Regions from separate parts of the Homo sapiens genome. Here region 2 is linked to region 1. Evidence: fine-mapped expression QTL. A gene starts in region 1. The other region holds a variant in brackets. All regions are shown on one strand. Distances are from middle to middle.

What was found.
Region 2: its variant is fine-mapped to the expression of NIPAL2 in whole blood (INTERVAL, PIP 0.98).

What each region holds. Positions count from the first base shown.
Region 1 is chr8:98,290,778-98,299,935 of GRCh38, forward strand. NIPAL2 (NIPA like domain containing 2) reads right to left here and starts at 3,458. Exons shown (of 11, transcript NM_001321635.2): 1 at 3,226-3,458. The coding sequence starts at 3,360. All of the region lies in intron 5 of LOC105375659 (a long non-coding RNA gene), which reads left to right. RefSeq lists a silencer at 2,978-3,697.
Region 2 is chr8:98,239,432-98,247,431 of GRCh38, forward strand. The region is part of intron 3 of NIPAL2 (NIPA like domain containing 2); the gene reads right to left. All of the region lies in intron 2 of NIPAL2-AS1 (NIPAL2 antisense RNA 1), which reads left to right. Among named protein-coding and RNA genes, the nearest start is that of NIPAL2, 51 kb to the right of the region's middle. The variant A/G (reference allele first, on the strand shown) is at 3,204.

The DNA.
Region 1 (9,158 bases):
AAGAAAAGAGAACCAAGAGAGCTGCAGCGGGGAGCACAGCTTGCTTTAAACATGAGATCCAGCTCAGTGATCATGCGGGGGAAAAGGCCCGGCATTGCTGGAACTCCTAATATTTAAAAAGATGATGGAAACTTGAAATTTTATATTTAATCTTCTCATTTTTAAGTGTTGGCAATGTATTGAAGACTTTGAAGCCTCTCTGCTGGTCAAACAAGATGTATCTGTAGGCTGGATTTAGTCCACAGCTGGCCAGTTTGAAAACTGAATCCTGCTAGCCTTAATTTAAATTTTTTTAAATTTAATTTGCTTTGATTCCTGCACTCCTGCTCAAAAAAATCTTCAATGGCTCCCCACTGTCTGCAAGGTAAAGTCCAAACTTTGTCACCAGTCCTTCAAAGCAACCCATGACTATATCCAAGACCCCAAACCATATTTCTACCTTATAGTCAGTCTCCATCTTCCACCGCAACCAGAATGATAGTTGAATTGTACTCTAGGAAGGAAAATATTCAGAAAGGCACCAGTCCTGGCCATGAGGGCTGCTTCTGGGTCCCTAAGCTTTTTCCTTTCCTGCAGTGCCCTACACTGTGCATGCCTATCAATGAAACCCTGTCCATCATTAACCATCCAGCTCAAATACCACCTCTCCACAAAACATCCCTGATGGCCCAGCCAAATGCCCCTTTGCTCTGAATTTCCATGGGACTTTATATCACTCACATGACACTTACAACATACTGCCTTGTTTTGGCATTACCTACATAGCTCATTTTCCCAAACACCTAATAATATTCACAGAAGGAAGAGTTTGGGTTTTGCACTATATTGAATATCCCTGTAGTGCTTTGTACATAGCATGGAGCTCAATAAACATCTTGGGAACATTATCCTTCTCTACTGAAAACTTGTGGATCAAACATAAAGTGCCTTTTGTTTACCTGTCACAACTCCATCACTTCTATACTTCTATAGGCCAGGCTTTTCACCAAGCACACAGCGTCTGAGTAGTGCAAAGGGCAAAGACTTCACTTCCCTGCTCCTAAGACATCTTCCCCCACTGAACTACTACTTTTGAGTTGCTTTGAGGTTTCTTCCTCCAGAAGCACTCACACCTTTGTCTTAGACAACATTGATTCTAAGTGGCCACTGTTAAACATGTATTACATGAAAGCATTCCAGGGAAGTTTGTCTTTTTCTATGTAGTAAGGTTAATTGATCAGATTTGATGATAATCACTTTGGAAGGGATAAAGGGACAGAGAACTAGGCTATCAGCCAACACACACTGTGCAAATATTTTAGTTGTGATAAAACCAATGGAGGCAAGCAAATAAGCATCATTAAGCTGTGGCTAGTTAGCAACCAACATTCATTTTGATTGTGGGAGTGACACATTTATATCTCACACTTTGTTTTTCTGTATCCACACCCATTTTCAGCCATTTCTATTCAGTGTCAAAAAAGACAAGAAAAATTAGACTCAATTTTATTTTTACTGGCCTGGACAACACCAGAGGCACTCAATAAAATGCTTCTCGAGTAAACTTTTTAAAAATTAATTTTTACTTTTGCTTAACACAAATGCAATTACTGAAAAGATAAAATACCACCATCTTATAAGAGGGCCTAAATTTGCACAATAATGGCAAAACTTGATACAGTTTTATCTCAAACCAGCAAAGTTTAGATGTCAGCTCAGTAATTTCAATTAGCACATTCTGGATACATCCTTTCTAACCTGTACAAATACACACTGTCAAAGGCAAATTAAGCCTTGCAAACAGTATTTATTTGCCTCACATTTATGTCACATGATAATCTGTGTTTGGATATCAGACAGCCAAGACAATCAAGAATTCCAGGAAATGTCAAAGAAAACTAATGACTACAGAGGTTTCCACTGTGAAAACAATGTCCTGTTTTTGGATGATCACATCTGCTAACCCTCTATTTTTTTTTTTTTTTTAATCAAGAGGGGATAGATAACTCATTCTTAAACTTATATTGGGAATACTTCTAATAAAAGAATAATATAATAGATAGATTCAAGTTCCCATAAAAATGATGCTTTTCTTTGTAATTCCTGTGGGTAGAAGAAAGGAGAAATGGGGTTGGATTACAAACATTGATCAAGAGGCTCTGAGTACCCTCATTTTTCCTATTTTTATATCTTTTATGATGAAATGACTTAAAGCAATACTCTCCCCTCTTGAAAACTAATAAAGTGAACATGCTTATTTATCTTACTTATTCTTTATACAAATATATTCTCTTCTGCATTCAGAAATTAATATTTAGAACACTTCAGGCATAAAAGGAATCCAGATCTTTGATAATTGGTTAAACTCTCCGATTTAGGACAACAGCAACAAATATTTTCTGATTATATTGTTGCAAAAATAAAAGTATCCATGGTTTTGTTAAAGAACAAGAACAAAGTAACACATTTAATGAAAACAGGAGGAAGCCTGGAATCCACCGTGATAAAACTTAGTTGCAATATGAACGCTGCTAGAGGAAGGGCTGGCCAGAACACTTCCTCATCTTAAACCAAGCCAAAAATAAATGGGCGGCTCCAAGTCCCTTTGATTTTGTTAAATGTATATTTCCAGTGTAAACTGGCGTTGTTTAAGTTAACAAAGTTTTCCCAAAGGGCCGGTGGGAAAGAATGAGAGTCCTGCAAATGCAACCTGAGAAAATGTGTTCCTCGCACGGAAATGGAAGAGCTGTGTTGAGATACCAGGGACACACGCAGGGCATCTGCGCGAGGTGACATTAGGCTGCCCTTAATGAGTTTTCTGCTTCTGATAACAGGGTGTCACTTTTTTCTTTTCTTTTAACTGTAAAAGGATCCTGGGGTGAAAATGAGTGAATTGCCCCCACACTCCTAGATTCCTTCCGGGAGAAGAGGGCGGACGCAGGCTGGGGAGGCGGGATCGGGACCCGGAGGTCCCAGGAACGGGTGGCTGAGGTCAAGGCCGAAGACCTGGGCGCCCACTCCCAGTGCCGGGTGCCCGGGAGAGGAAGACTGGGCGGACCCCCGCGCTTCCGGATGAGGCGGACTTAGGTCAATGCGGGAAACATTGCATGTCACCTCTTCCCACTCGGAGAGGCCGGGTGTCTTCCTGAGAGCTGGCAGGAAAGCGGCCGAGGCGCAGAGGCGCCCGGAGCCAGCCGCCCTGGCCGCGTCCCCACCGGGCTGCGGTGGCTGCGGGGCGGCCCTTACCTGGTTCCTGCGGTACCAGTCGCCCGAGAGGGAGCCGTTGCCGGCGCCTGGTGCCCCGTACGTGAAATTCAGTGACAGCTCGTCCAGGGCGGCCGAGGCGGAGTCCCCGGGGCCCGCGGGCGCCACCGCTGCCATGAGGTCTCGCTCCCGGCGCTCGGGCTCCGGCTCGGGCTGCGGCCGCCTCCCCGCCCTGTTGCACCGCGAGGAGGCCGCGCCGCAGCCACTTCCTGCTCGGTGCCCGGGCGAGGCGGGCGCGCCGAGGCCACCTGGCTCCCGCCCCCGCGCGGCCGTAGGTGCTCCCAGCCTGGCCGGGCGCTGCCTCCTCTCCTCCTCCGGTGCGAGGTGTCCTCGGGGAGCCCGGCGGTCTGCGGCCTCCCGGGGCCGTCCAGCTCGCACCGCGCCCTCCTTCCGCTGGGCCAGTGTCTGCATCCTCGGGGCCGCACTGCCCAAGGGGGCAATCCCCGCGGCCGTCCGCAACGGGTCCCCGCGCCTGTCGGGGCCAGAATCAGATCATCTCCGTTGTAAACATTTGTCCAAGTCAATGGAAGAGGAGGAGACACTGACTAACCCAAAGCAGCTATCATCTCCCATCTCTACCTGGCAATTCCAGTCCTCTATCACATATGTAGTGTTTCTCACCGATATTTTAAAAATTGATTGCATATGAAAAAGTCATGAGTTCCCAGAAATATTGTAAGCAATATGAGAAAAAAAGATCCGAGCGATTGAATCTCAGTGCCAGTGCTTGATAGATCCTTAGTAAATATTCCTTGAATGAGGAATGTGGTAGCCATAGGACCCCAGTGTGCGATGACTGGATTGGGTTTGCTTCAGATGGGATCAGGTGGAGTTGCTGAAAAGTTGCCAGCTACTGTATATATGAATTTAGGATGAAAGATAAATGTTGTTATTAATCTTAAGAACTCTAACGAGATGTTCTGGTTTTACCTGTATTCAAATTCTAATGTGTGACCACAAATGATCTGTAGGGTATTTCTCACTTTAAAAAAACCATGATTCTATACTGTTGCCTGAAGGCTGATAGTTGCCTTCTTTTGTTTACACAATGCTGAGGTTTTTCTTAGATAATGTGCTTTGACTTCCATGAGTTCATGAAAGAGAGACCTTCAAGAAAAGAGAATTGCTGCCTAGAAGGGAGCAGGGACAGTTTTCAGTGTTTCTTAGGGGAAATGTGCAAATGAGAGAAAAGAGTGAGAAAAAGTCATTTCACATACAGAAAAAACAAGACATGTCGTCTCAGAAATTGTGTAGTTTCTTGCTTAAGCACTCGAGATGTTCAGTGAACAGCTAACAATTGTAGGTAACTATTCCCAATTTTAAGAGGCTGATTTACTTCAAATAAATATCTGAAGGAAAAAGGTCTCTATTTGTTATATTACATTTTATTTTATTTTTTGAGACAGGGTCTTGCTCTGTTGCCCAGGCTGGAGTGCAGTGGTGTGATCTTGACTCACTTTAGCCTCATATTCCTGGGCCCAAGTGATCCTCCCACCTGGGACTACATACAGGTGCATGCCACCATGCCCAGCTAATTTTTTTTTTTTTTAGATAGAGTCTCTCTCTCTTGCCCAGGCTGCAGTGCAGTGGCACAATCTCAGCTCACTGCAACCTCTGCCTCCTGGGTTCAAACAATGCTCCTGCCTCAGCCTCCTGAGTAGCTGGGACTACACGTGCACACCACCAAGCCCGGCTAATTTTTGTATTTTTAGTAGAGACAGGGTTTCACGGTGTTGGTCAGGCTGGCCTCAAGCTCCTAACCTCCAGTGATCCCCCTGTCTTGGCCTCCCAAAGTGCTGGGATTACAGGTGTGAGCCACCACACCTGGCCCTGGCTAATATTTTTCTATTTTTTTGTAGGGACAGGGTCTCGCAATTTTTCCTAGGCTGGTCTAGAACTCCTGGCCTCAAACAGTTGTCCCACCTCGGCCTCCCAAAGTGGTGGGATTACAGGTGTGAGCTGCCATGCCTTGTCTGATAAGTTTTCTATAACATCACATTCATTGATATTGGTGACTTCATTAATGCTTCTTTCTCTTCACATGCTTTAGGGTGCAAGTAACAGAGTATCCAAATAAAAGTGGCTTAAACAATAATTATCTGCTATCTCCAGAGGAATGTGTCTCTATGTGGTTCTATTATGTCGTCACTTCCACCTTTCTGCTCTGCTATCCCTGAGGTACTGGTCTTGTCCATTGAGGGAGGAAAGCCTTTTCCAGAATCCTCCTGGCATCCTTTCACCTCAGATCCCATTGGCTGGGACTGGGTCACATGCCCATGTTCTACCAGCAAGGGAGGCTGGGAAAGTGATTCTTGGGTATTTCCAACCTAGTGAGAGGTAAGCTCTACCAACCAGGATGAGTGGGAATGCCATGGGGTTATGGGGGAGGGGAACCAGTCAACCCTGGTACAACCACTCTAGTATTTTTCTATCAGCCAGATTGTAAGTAGTTGTACAGTTGCTAACAAGCAAAATACTAAATGGATTGTGTTACTTTCTGGTTTAAAATGCCTTGAAGCCTCCCTATTGCCATAATGAAGTCCACACTTTTTTTTTTTTTGAGACAGAGTCTTGCTCTGTCACCCAGGCTGGAGTGCAGTGGCACAATCTCGGCTCACTGCAAGCTCCGCCTCCCGAGTTCACGCCATTCTCCTGCCTCAGCCTCCTGAGTAGCTGGGACTACAGATGCCCGCCACCACGCCCAGCTAATTTTTTGTATTTTTAGTAGAGTCTGGGTTTCATCGTGTTAGCCAGGATGGTCTCGATCTCCTGACCTCATGATCCACCCACCTCAGCCTCCCAAAGTGCTGGGATTACAGGCGTGAGTCACCACGCCCAGACAATTTTTTTTTTTTTTTAATTTTTTGTAGAGATGGGGTCTCATTATGTTTCCCAGGCTGGTCTAGAACTCCTGGCCTCAAACAATTCAGTGAGACTTCTGAATAAAACTAAGTTTAATTCTTTAAAAGCTTGATTTTTTTCCCTTTAGTTGATACTCTGCTATACTCAACTTGTTCCCATTTTATTTCTTAATTTAAAAAAACATTTTCAATTTCTTTACATTTGTTTAAAACCTCTAATTTTGGAGGAAGATGGTACATGATGCAGAGAAGATTTGATGTACAGCCTACCACGTGGTGTTCTCTAGATTCCAAGATGTCACTGCTGTTGCTGCTGTCCTAGTGTGTGTGGGTGGTTGAAACGAAGAATTCGTGACCAGCGTTCCTTCCCACACAGTTCACAAGGAGGCGGCAGGAATGCCATGTGAACTATTTTGGTCCCAGCAGTGTAGGCAGAGCTGTGGAGATTGTTCCGTACTTTGTGACGGCCTCTACCTCTCGTGGGATTTCTTCAGGGGATATCCTGTTCACTTTACGGGATGCCAAAAGCTAAAAAAAGGGCTGAAACGTGGAAGTCTGTCTTCCTCAGTTAATTTGAAGAACTCTACTCTGGTGCCAAATCATTTACTTAGAGAGCAGGGTTAGATTTTGCCTACCTTGCCTGGGATCAGTCACTGGCAGCATTAACAAAACAGCTTTTTTTTTTCTCTCAACTTTTTTTTTAGATACAGGGGTACATGTGCAGGTTTGTTACATGGGTTTCTTGCAACCAAGTAGTGAGCATAGTACCAGTAGGTAGTTTTTCCACCTGTGCCCTCCTCCTTCCCTCCCCTCTCTAGTAGTCCGCATTGTTGATTGTTCCCATGAATAAAATGTTTTTTTTAAAATTCATCTCTAGCACAATTCAGTCAATACTAGTTGTGTTACAATAAGCATTACTCAAGTTAGGAGCTTTTAAGGGGCCAAAGTAGAGAAGGGTATGGATTAATTCAGGTATCTCACATCATAAGCCAAGTCCAGATTAGAGACTTTGATGAGAGAGGCGAAACTTTGAATCTTATAGAATAACATATGACATCATCTCTATAAACAACAGTTTGGCAATTGTTAAAGTGCAAACACAAGGCAGACTGTCTGGGTTCAAATCCTGACTCCACTGCTTATTTGCTGTATGACCTCATCTAGTTGCTCAATTTCTCTGAGCCTTGTCTTTATCACCTGTAAAAGGGAGATGATAAGGAGTACCCGAAACATAGAAAGTACTCAATAGGTGCCGGCTATAACCTTACAATAGGGAAGCATCCCTTAAACAAATTAAAAAATACAATCCACATAGACAAAGATTCATAAGTGCAATTACAATAAAACTAAGAACTTTTTTTTTTTTCGAGACAGGGTCTTGCTCTGTTGCCCAGGCTGGAGTGCAGTGGTACAATTTTGGCAGGACGAAGTCTTGATCTCCCAGGCTCAATCCATCCTCCCACCTCAGCCTCATGAGTAGCTGGGACTACAGGCTCACACCATGACGCCCAGCTAATTTTTGGGTTTTTTTGTAGAAATGGGGTTTCACCATGTTGCCCAGGCTGGTCTCAAACTCCTGGGCTCAAGCAATCTGCCTACTTGGCCTCCCAAAGTGCGGGTTTACAGGCATGAGCCACCATGCCCAGCCAAACTAAGAACTTTTATACATCAATAGGCACCATAAAGTGTAAAAAGATAAGTCAGAAACTGAGAATCTTAATACAAAAATACTAGCCAGGCATGGTGGCGCATGCCTGTAGTCTCAGCTACTTGGGGAGGCTGAGGCAGGAGGATCACCTGAGCCCGGGAGGTCAAGGCTGCCCTGAGCTGTGATCATGCTACTACACTCCAGCCTGGGCAATAGAGTGAGACCCTGCCACAAAAAACAAAACAAAACAAAACAAAACAAAAGTCAAACTCAGAACTTTTATTTCTCATACATGTGACTGACCAAGGATTCACATCCAGAATATATAAATAACTCCTTCAGGTCAATAAGAAAAAGTCAGACAACTGGTAGAAAAATGGGCAAAAATATAAACAGGTGGTCTTCATAAGAAAAACTATAAATGGCTAATAAACATATAAAATACTTCCATTTCACCAGTAATCAGAAAAATACAAAATAATATCTCCAATGAGAACCATTTTACACCTGCTGGTTGGCAAAAAAAAAAATTTTTAATTTGCATACCAAGTGTTGATAAGGATGTGGAGCAAAAGAAACTCTTATTTAGTGCTGATGCTATTGACACTGGAAAGAGTTTGACAGTATTTGGTAAAGATGAAGATGTACATGTGAATTTCACTCTTATGTACATACCCCAGAGAAACTTCCGTACCTGGACAGCAGAAGAGATGTATAAGAATAACAGCACTCTTTGTAACAGCAAAACAAACAAACAAACAAACAAACAAACAAACAAAAAACTGGAAGCAGCTCAAATGTCCATTAGCAGGAATAGTGGGCAAATGAATTTTGATACATTTATATAATGGAACACAGCAATGAAATTACCTGAATGACAACCACCTAACAGCCACAGCAACATGGATGAATCCCACAAACATAATAATAGCAAATCCATAGAAGATTATATTCAGTATTATTCAAAAGCATGCAAAATTAGACAATATATTGTTTAGAAGTACATCTATCTATATGTGGGAAGACCTAATGAAAAGCAAAGGATAGACCAGGTGCTGTGGCTCATGCCTGTAATCCCAGCATTTTAGGAAGCGGAGGCGAGCTGATCATTTGAGCTCAGGAGTTCAAGACGAGCCTGGGCAACATGGTGAGATCTGTATAGGTACAGTGAGCCGTGATGGCTCCACTGCATTCTGTCCTGGGGTACAGAGTGACACCCTGTCTGAAAAAGAAAGAAAGAAAAAGAGAGAGAGGAAGGAAGGAAGGAAGGGGCAAAAAATGATAAACACAAAAATTCTGATAGTGGTTGAAAGGTTTGGCAACGTTCTATTTTCTAAATTGGGTTATGTGTTATATGGGCATTTGTACTATTATTATTCTTAAAGGTATACACTTATGTCAAGTGT
Region 2 (8,000 bases), 52 kb before region 1:
ACTTTCAGAAGGAGGAGGGGAAAATGTTATATGGGAAATAATTTCATTGCTAAAAGCAAAAAGGACATGATTGGTAACAAAAAACTGGAAATACACTACTTGTATCAAATTATATCAATTGCTATAAAACAATTGTCAGAATTTTATGAAACATAAATATGCTACTCTTCCTTTCTGAAAGATAATAGAAGTCTAATGCACTTCCACATTCAGCCAATAACATTTTTTTTCTGTTTTAAGAGAACTTGAGATTTTCTACAAAATTTTTAGGTAATAGAACAAGATTTTTTAGTTTTATTTATCTAGTAAAAAAGGCAAGAAAAAAAGAACATTCTATTAAGATACATTTACTTTCAACTCATTTATCTTGCAAATATGCTAAAATGAGAGCTGTGTTGAGCAAAAAGGCAGTATTGAGCAACAGCTAATAACATGACTTTTAAGTAGAGTAGTAAGTTTTTCAAATGAGAAAAACATCAACTGAAGTACTCGCATATATGTTTGTAATCAGAGGTCTATCAAGCCCAACACTTTCTAGTAGTTGCTATCACAATAACCATTGCCTAATGAACACCTAGAAAAGGGGAAAATCTATTATACTTTTATTCCTATAGTAAAATTTAATATTCAAAAATAGAGCATTTCAAGATTAATCACTTAAAAAGCATGAAAACAGAACATAGCTGTAAATTAAACAGATTTGTACTAGTTATGGTTAAACCATAGTTATGACTGGATATTTACTTAAGCAATCAATTGTGTGTGCATTTTTGGTTTGAGACATGTTTGGGCAGAGACTCATGAATGCTTTTCCCTCTGGCCTTCAGAAGACATGGGTCTACAGAGAGTGCTCACTGATCTTGGTGCTTTATTAAAAAGTACTTTTTCGGGGGGAAAACTGATGTAAGAAAAACCAGGAGGAAGATGCGGGCTCTCCTAAGCACACAATAGTCCTAGCAGGTTAATAAAATGTCCCTGATTCAGACAGGCTATTTTCCCAGCCAAAACTCACTGCCCATAGTCAGTGAACTGTTATTCTTGGCAGGTGGGAGATGTTTATAAAATGTGACACCCTTTCCCTACAAGCTTATCAACAAGTGATGGCGGATGGTGCTATTGCAGTTGTCCAAGAATCATCTTATCTTGGGGCCGATATATAAAATTTGCAAAAGGGGGTCTAATCTGAGCTGAGCTGTCTTCAACTCATCCTTACTTCATTATTCTTAAGGAAATGCTCTATTGGAAAGGCTAAGGCTGATTCATGAGAATGCTGGGAAGTGGAATATGGACAGGAATTAGCCAAAAAGACTTCCCTACTGTTTTGTTACTCAGAGTATCACTCCAGGTGAAAAGAAGAAGGTCCTGTTGAAGAACTGAAGTTCCACAATACTGCCTAGGTGGCCGGGTGCTGGGCTGGGATGTAGAACACCTGGGTTTGAGTGTTGCTCTGTCCAGAACCAGCTATGGAATACAGCACATGTTAATGTGCTAGCCTCGGTTTTATTTCCTCAACCGGTGAAAGGAAGCATTTGTGCTTCGTCCTTTCTAATTATTCTCCTTGCTTGAACATTTTATAAACAGTCAGTTACTAGAAATAAGAGTGCATGGACCAAGCTGTGCTCTTTGTGTTTTCCCAGGTGGCTTTGAGTATTTGAGGGAAAAGAGACAGGTCCTCTGTTTTCCAAGATGACCATGGTCTATGTGTGTAGGTATAACTGAAAACACCAAGATTTGACACAGCATCTTTTCTTTACTTAGTGATGATATGTGTGAACAGGTATACCCACCAGTATGCAAAGAAACACAACCCCAGTGGATAAATGAATGGGCAGGAACACAAGTAATTCACAAATGAGAGTAGACAAACACATAGGGGAAAGTCCAAATCATCAGTAATAAAGATAATTTAGAGCCAGGTGCTCTTTTCCACACACAATTTTAAGGCTGAGTATTGACAAGGAAGAAGTAAAGTCAGTACTCCCTCACATTGCTAGAGTCACTGTAAATTGATAGAAACTTTCTGATGAGTGATTTTACAATATCTATCAACAGCATCAAACTATTCAAATTCTTTGATCTAGTAATTCTGCATCTGTGAATCTGTCCTAAGGAAGTATTCCAAAAAATGGAGAGTCTCAAGCCTAAAGGTGTCAATTGCAAAATTATTTTTCATAGTGGAAAACTGGAATAATCTAAACGTTCAGCAATAATCAGTAGGATATTATGCAGCTAATAGAAATTATTATGGAAAATTACACAGTGATATTGATAATTTTATGCTATTATGTTAAAAGAGGTAGAAAATTATATTTATACAATGATTATGACAGGAAAATATATACACAATAAGGGTGGCTGAATATTCTACTTATTAAGGGTTTGACACGGAATAATTAACTCTTTCTATCCTCCCAGCGTCTCAATGAGATAGTTGGCATTGTTATACTCATTTTACAGATAAAAAAGCTGAGGCTTGGAGAGTTTAAGTTTATTACACAATGTCACACAGTGACTCCAGAGTCAGGCACTAGACCACAATGGCCATAATGCATTAAAAAAATAAAAGGTGAAAGGTAATACACCATTGGTATACCATGGCATAAAAGGCAAAAGGTAATGTACCATTGATAATATACCAATTTATCAAATTTCCTTTAGACAGGAGGAATAAGTTTTAGCGATCTATTGCACAGCATGGTGACCCAGTTAATAGTGATACATATTTCAAAATTCCTAAAAGAGTAGATTTTAAAAGTTCTTTTTTTTGAGACAGGGTCTCCTTCTGTTGCCCAGGCTGGAGTGCAGTGGCGCAACCATGGCTCGCTGCAGCCTCGACCTCCTGAGCTCACGTGATTCTCCCACCTCAGCCTCCCAAGGAGCTGGGACTATAGGCAATACCGTGTACTAACACGCCTGGCTAGTTTTTAATTTTTTTTGTAGAGACAGAGTCTCACTATGTTGCCCAGGCTGGTCTCAAACGTCTGGGCTCAATTGATTCTCCTACTTTGGCCTTCCAAAGTGCTGAGATTACAGGCAAAAGCCACTGCACCTGACAGATTTTTTTTTTTTTTTTTTTAACTGAGCCTGGCTCTGTCACCCAGGCTGGAGTGCATTGGCGATCTCAGCTCACTGCAACTTCCGCTTCCCAAGTTCGAGCGATTCTCCTGCCTCAGCCTCCTGAGTAGCTGGGGCTATAGGAGCCC[A/G]CCACTATGCCCGGCTAATTTTTGTATTTTTAGTAGAGATGGGGTTTCACTATATTGGCCAGGCTGGTTCTGAGCTCCTAACCTCGTGATCCTCCCGCCTTGGCCTCGCAAAGTGCTACGATTACAGGAGTGAGCCACCGCGCCCGGTCTTTTGCCTAAATATTCTTAACCATACAAAATGAGAAGTCGATGAGATGATAAATATGTTAATTAGCCTGATGTAATGTTTCTACAGCATATACAACTATCAAAACACCACACTGTACCCCATAAACATATAAAATTATTTGTCAATTAAAACAATTTTAAAAATTACGTTAAAAAATAAAAAAGTTTGAAAAGATAACATGCCAAAACCCAAAGGGTGGTTCTGTAGGAGTCATGGGGGGCAGGGCGGAGGAAGACAGCAGGAATACTATCCGTAAGGGGAAAGGACATGCAACCTTCTTCTAGTGTTTCCTTTGGTGCAAAATGGTACCTCCATGGAGCAGTCTAATGTATTTAATGCATCCAGTTGCCCTTGAAGCTCTAATGCTTTAAGGAAGCTTTTCAGCAGCAATTGCTGACTGCTGACTGTGGACTGACTCCTATTGGTGAGTCATCTGTTCTTTTGGCTATTAAGTGTCACTTAGGTTGGCAATCAAAATGGAGATTCATTCTGTTCAAGGTTCATATAAGGAAACGTACACTTGGGCATTTGGATTCAGGTTTCCAGATGAAAATAGATAAAATAAAGGCCAAGCAAGTTTCCGGTGCCTTCCAAACCATGTCTAGATGTGGGGGAGGGTGCCAGTCCCAGAGCGAGGTATGTGTCTTGGTGTTGCACTTCCTCGTGCTTCTTGATTTACTTAGGAATCAACCCTCGGTTTGTCCTTCATTCACCTACTCTCTGAAATCCTTCAGTTTATGAGACTCGGTCCAAGACCAGCTCTTATTATGGAAGAGTTACTTGATGCTCTAAGACCCATAGCAGGCCACAAGAGAGAAAAAGCCAACCATAAATTAACCTGATGCATGAGTATTCAGAAAAGTTGTAAATACTTGGTTTGAGGTTCTTCTGTAATAGCTACTAATGTGGATTAATAAATGAGAAGTTAAATACCAAACTTCTCTGTTAGCAATTTAGCTCAAGGGCAGATTTTTACATGTCAGTTTAGAACCCTGTGTCTGTAGAATAAGAGGTAAATGGGCATTCCCTTTTTAAATTTGTAACATTAAGACATATGTGTGCTTTTTATTTAAACTCTCTTCCCCTAAAATAATAATTTTTTATTAAAAGCTTAATGGTACATAAGACTGTTCAATAACTGTTTCAATGTTTAGGGCATGGCTATTTTTAAATGATTTTGTTCACTTTGTTTATTTCTTTCTGTTTTTTTACCCTTTATTATCACTTCTTAAAGACAAATCTAACCCAAAGCTAAGACAATCAATTAATTATACTTTACTCAAATGTGATTATGGATATGATATTCTTATCTGATTCAGCTGGGGAGAAAAAGAACGTTTGGTTGACAGGTTACAAACTCAAATGCCTATAAGGGCCTTTAAGGTAATCCTCTGAAGACAAAAAAAAAAATGAGGGGGGTGTGGGCCACAGTAATAAGGGGGATGGGCTCTGGTGATGAAGACGGTGGGCGTGGTGATGAGAGGTAGTCTGTAATGATGAGAGGGTGGGCGTGGTGATGAGGGGTAGTCTGTAATGATGAGAGGGTGGGCGTGGTGATGAGGGGTAGTCTGTAATGATGAGAGGGTGGGCGTGGTGATGAGGGGTAGTCTGCAATGATGAGGGGGTGGGCTGTGGTGATGAGGGAGGTGGGCGTGGTGATGGGGGTAGGCTGTAATGATGAGGGGGTGGGTTGTGGTGATGAGCGGGTAGGCTGTGATAAGGGGGGTGGGCTGTGATGATGAGAGGGTGGGCTGTGATAAGGGGGGTGCGCTGTGGTGATGAGAGGGTGGGCTGTGGTGATGAGAGGGTGGGCTGTGGTGATGGGGGGTGCTGGCCATGGTGGTGATGGGCTGTGGGGCCGTGGTGAACTATTCAAGATCAGTGAAAGGTGGCACTCCTGAATCAGCCTTAGCCAACTGCAAATCCAGCACTACCAAATCTGATTCTTTAGCCAAAAATTCAGTTTTGTGTGTGTGTTATTGTCCAATTTTTACCCATAGGAAATTAATTAGTATTCTTTAAAAGCATTGTTTGAGCCAGTCAAAACATGGGCCAACTCTGGTCTACAGGCAAGTTTGTGAACTCTAATCTAGCCTACAAATAAAAATTTCATCCATTTTCATTTCCTGGACATTCAATTTATTACGTCATCTCTGTGATATAAAGAGAAACCAGGATGTATATTTATAATATAGGAAAATAGAAGATAAAACACTAAGGAAAACTCTCTCTTATAAAAAGAAAATAACCCATGACATGAAAAGAACATATTTACATAATAATGCTACAAACAGAACCTCACATGTAAATATCTGGCTTGTGGTTTCTGACCACTTATAATGGCAACTTTATTGTACTGCTAAAAAGCAAACCACAAAAACACTTTCATGTCAGTCACAATCAAGCTCCAAACACGTGGACACATCGAGCGTGCTCACAGGCAGAGTCAACTCTAACCATATTGAGGTACTACTACATAATTATCATTCCCCGTTAGTTGTAGAACTTTAGGAAAAGAGGTATGTCAATTACAATGTATTCCATGGAATTAAGATTTGAATATCTGAGGATATGTCAGTTTGAAAAATGTCATCTTACAGCGGGAAAAGTTCTACCATTCATGTTGGCAGGAAGAAAAGTGTCAAGTAATTCATGTTGATTAAAAAAATTGCTATTGTCATTTACTGAAGATAATGAAGGAACTGTCGTTCAGAGACAATTTGCATAATTTCAAACGAGGGAACTTACCTGGATTAAGAACAATAATCCTTTCTTTTCTACATTTTTCTTGGCATGCGTTAATGTTAAAGTTGAAAAGACTCCAAAAAAGTAAAAATACTACCACTGACTAGATTAATTCTGTATTACAAATTTAATTGTGTGTTACTTCATCATTAGCAGCCTCTCTAGAAATACTCTTGTGGCATGCTGAAAAAATAAGGATGAGTGGAAAAGATGTTTCAAATAAAGTGTTTAGGCTTCAGGAATGCTTTCTGCTGAGCGTATATGAGCAGACATAGATTAAAACTTCAGAGTTTTATTTCACACATTTTATGTAGGCTGGTTTTTGGACAAACACGCAAAAGCAGATAACTCATCAAGCCACTAAGAAAAGTGATATTTTCTGCATATCTTGAACATTAAAATCAATGTCCGTGTGAAGTGACACTATCACAGGCATCCTGTGAGGTTTTAGAGTTCCGGTGACCTCATCCAGGCTGGCAGTAAGCACACTGCTCTAAGGGACAAAGAGAATTCGCAGCATCTAGGTTTGTGTAACGCTATGGGTCACTTGCTCATTGGTCTGTTTATGTTTCCTTTCATTTGTTTCTAATAAAAATCTTGGAGACCAAAGTTTCTCCTTGACATGATTTCTTTGGAATTCCAAAAGGCCTCACCAGGGCTTCCTGGCTCTGCTATGACCGTCGTCTAATGGATTACAGATACATTTCAGTTTAGGGCTTCATAACAGCACCACAGAAATACACAAAACAACATGTATTCCACATCATGAATTTTGATTTGAGCAAAAACCAGCATATTGGGGAAAATTAGAGATGGAAAAGACTTATCAGACTCATGCTCTCCTCATTTTCTCAGTGCAGTTAGCTCTCCAACCTTAATACAAATTAGCTCAGTAACAGTGCGACTACTTCTCTTAGGAACTTACTCTAGGGCCATGGAGATCTTGCTGCTATTATCTTTCCATACAAAATTTCAAGTGCTTAATTTAATATAATTTATCCCAAAGTCAATCTATTTATTACTCATTTCCATTCAGCTGGGCAATGATTGAGGTAATGAGTTTATGTGTCTCATACCTGGCATAGTGGATGCTCATTCAATATTAGTTTCTTACCTTTATTACTTTGTCTAAAGTATTGCCCGAATTTAACTTGGAAAAAGCTGATATGTTCTTGCACTCTTTTCTAGTTACTTTTAATCAATATACTCAGAGGCATAGAACTGAAAAATGTCACCGGTGCTTCCATCACATTCTATTTCTCCCTCCCTCCCTCCTTGCCCCTGCAATGATCTCCCTCCATATCCCACTTCCTTGCCGCCCCATAGACAAGTTAATTTTATACTGAGAGAAGTCTGCCATGAAGCTATTTAATTCCATGTGGCTTCAATTCTTTGGATTGTTGATAACTTCATTGTTTTTAATCATCTCTAAATGTTTAGGCATAGCATAGATCACAGTCATGGGGATAAACAGAAAAAGGAAAACATTAAATGTAAGCCCACGCTTTGGAGATGCACAAATAACTGAACTCAATCCCCAAAGGACAGGCTTATAGACCTATGAGTGTTCACAAGCATGAATATTCATGAGTCTCTTGCAATGAACTGTTTAACCACCGTGCTTCATTAGGAATTGAAATCTTTTAAGCAAGTATTTATCTCTTCCAACACCCTAGAACGGAACATCCTATCCTTGTTTTGTCAAAATTCAAATTTGAACCAATTCTGCAGGCTGCATTTTGTGATTTCCCCGTGCTGTGCTCTCCCAGGAAGGGCAAATGTCAAGCAACGAGACACACAGTCAGTCACCAGTCCCCTGGGTCTCAGTTAAATGGTGAGGAAGGACATGAAACAGGTCATTGTGCGCATGCTGAGAGGTGCCA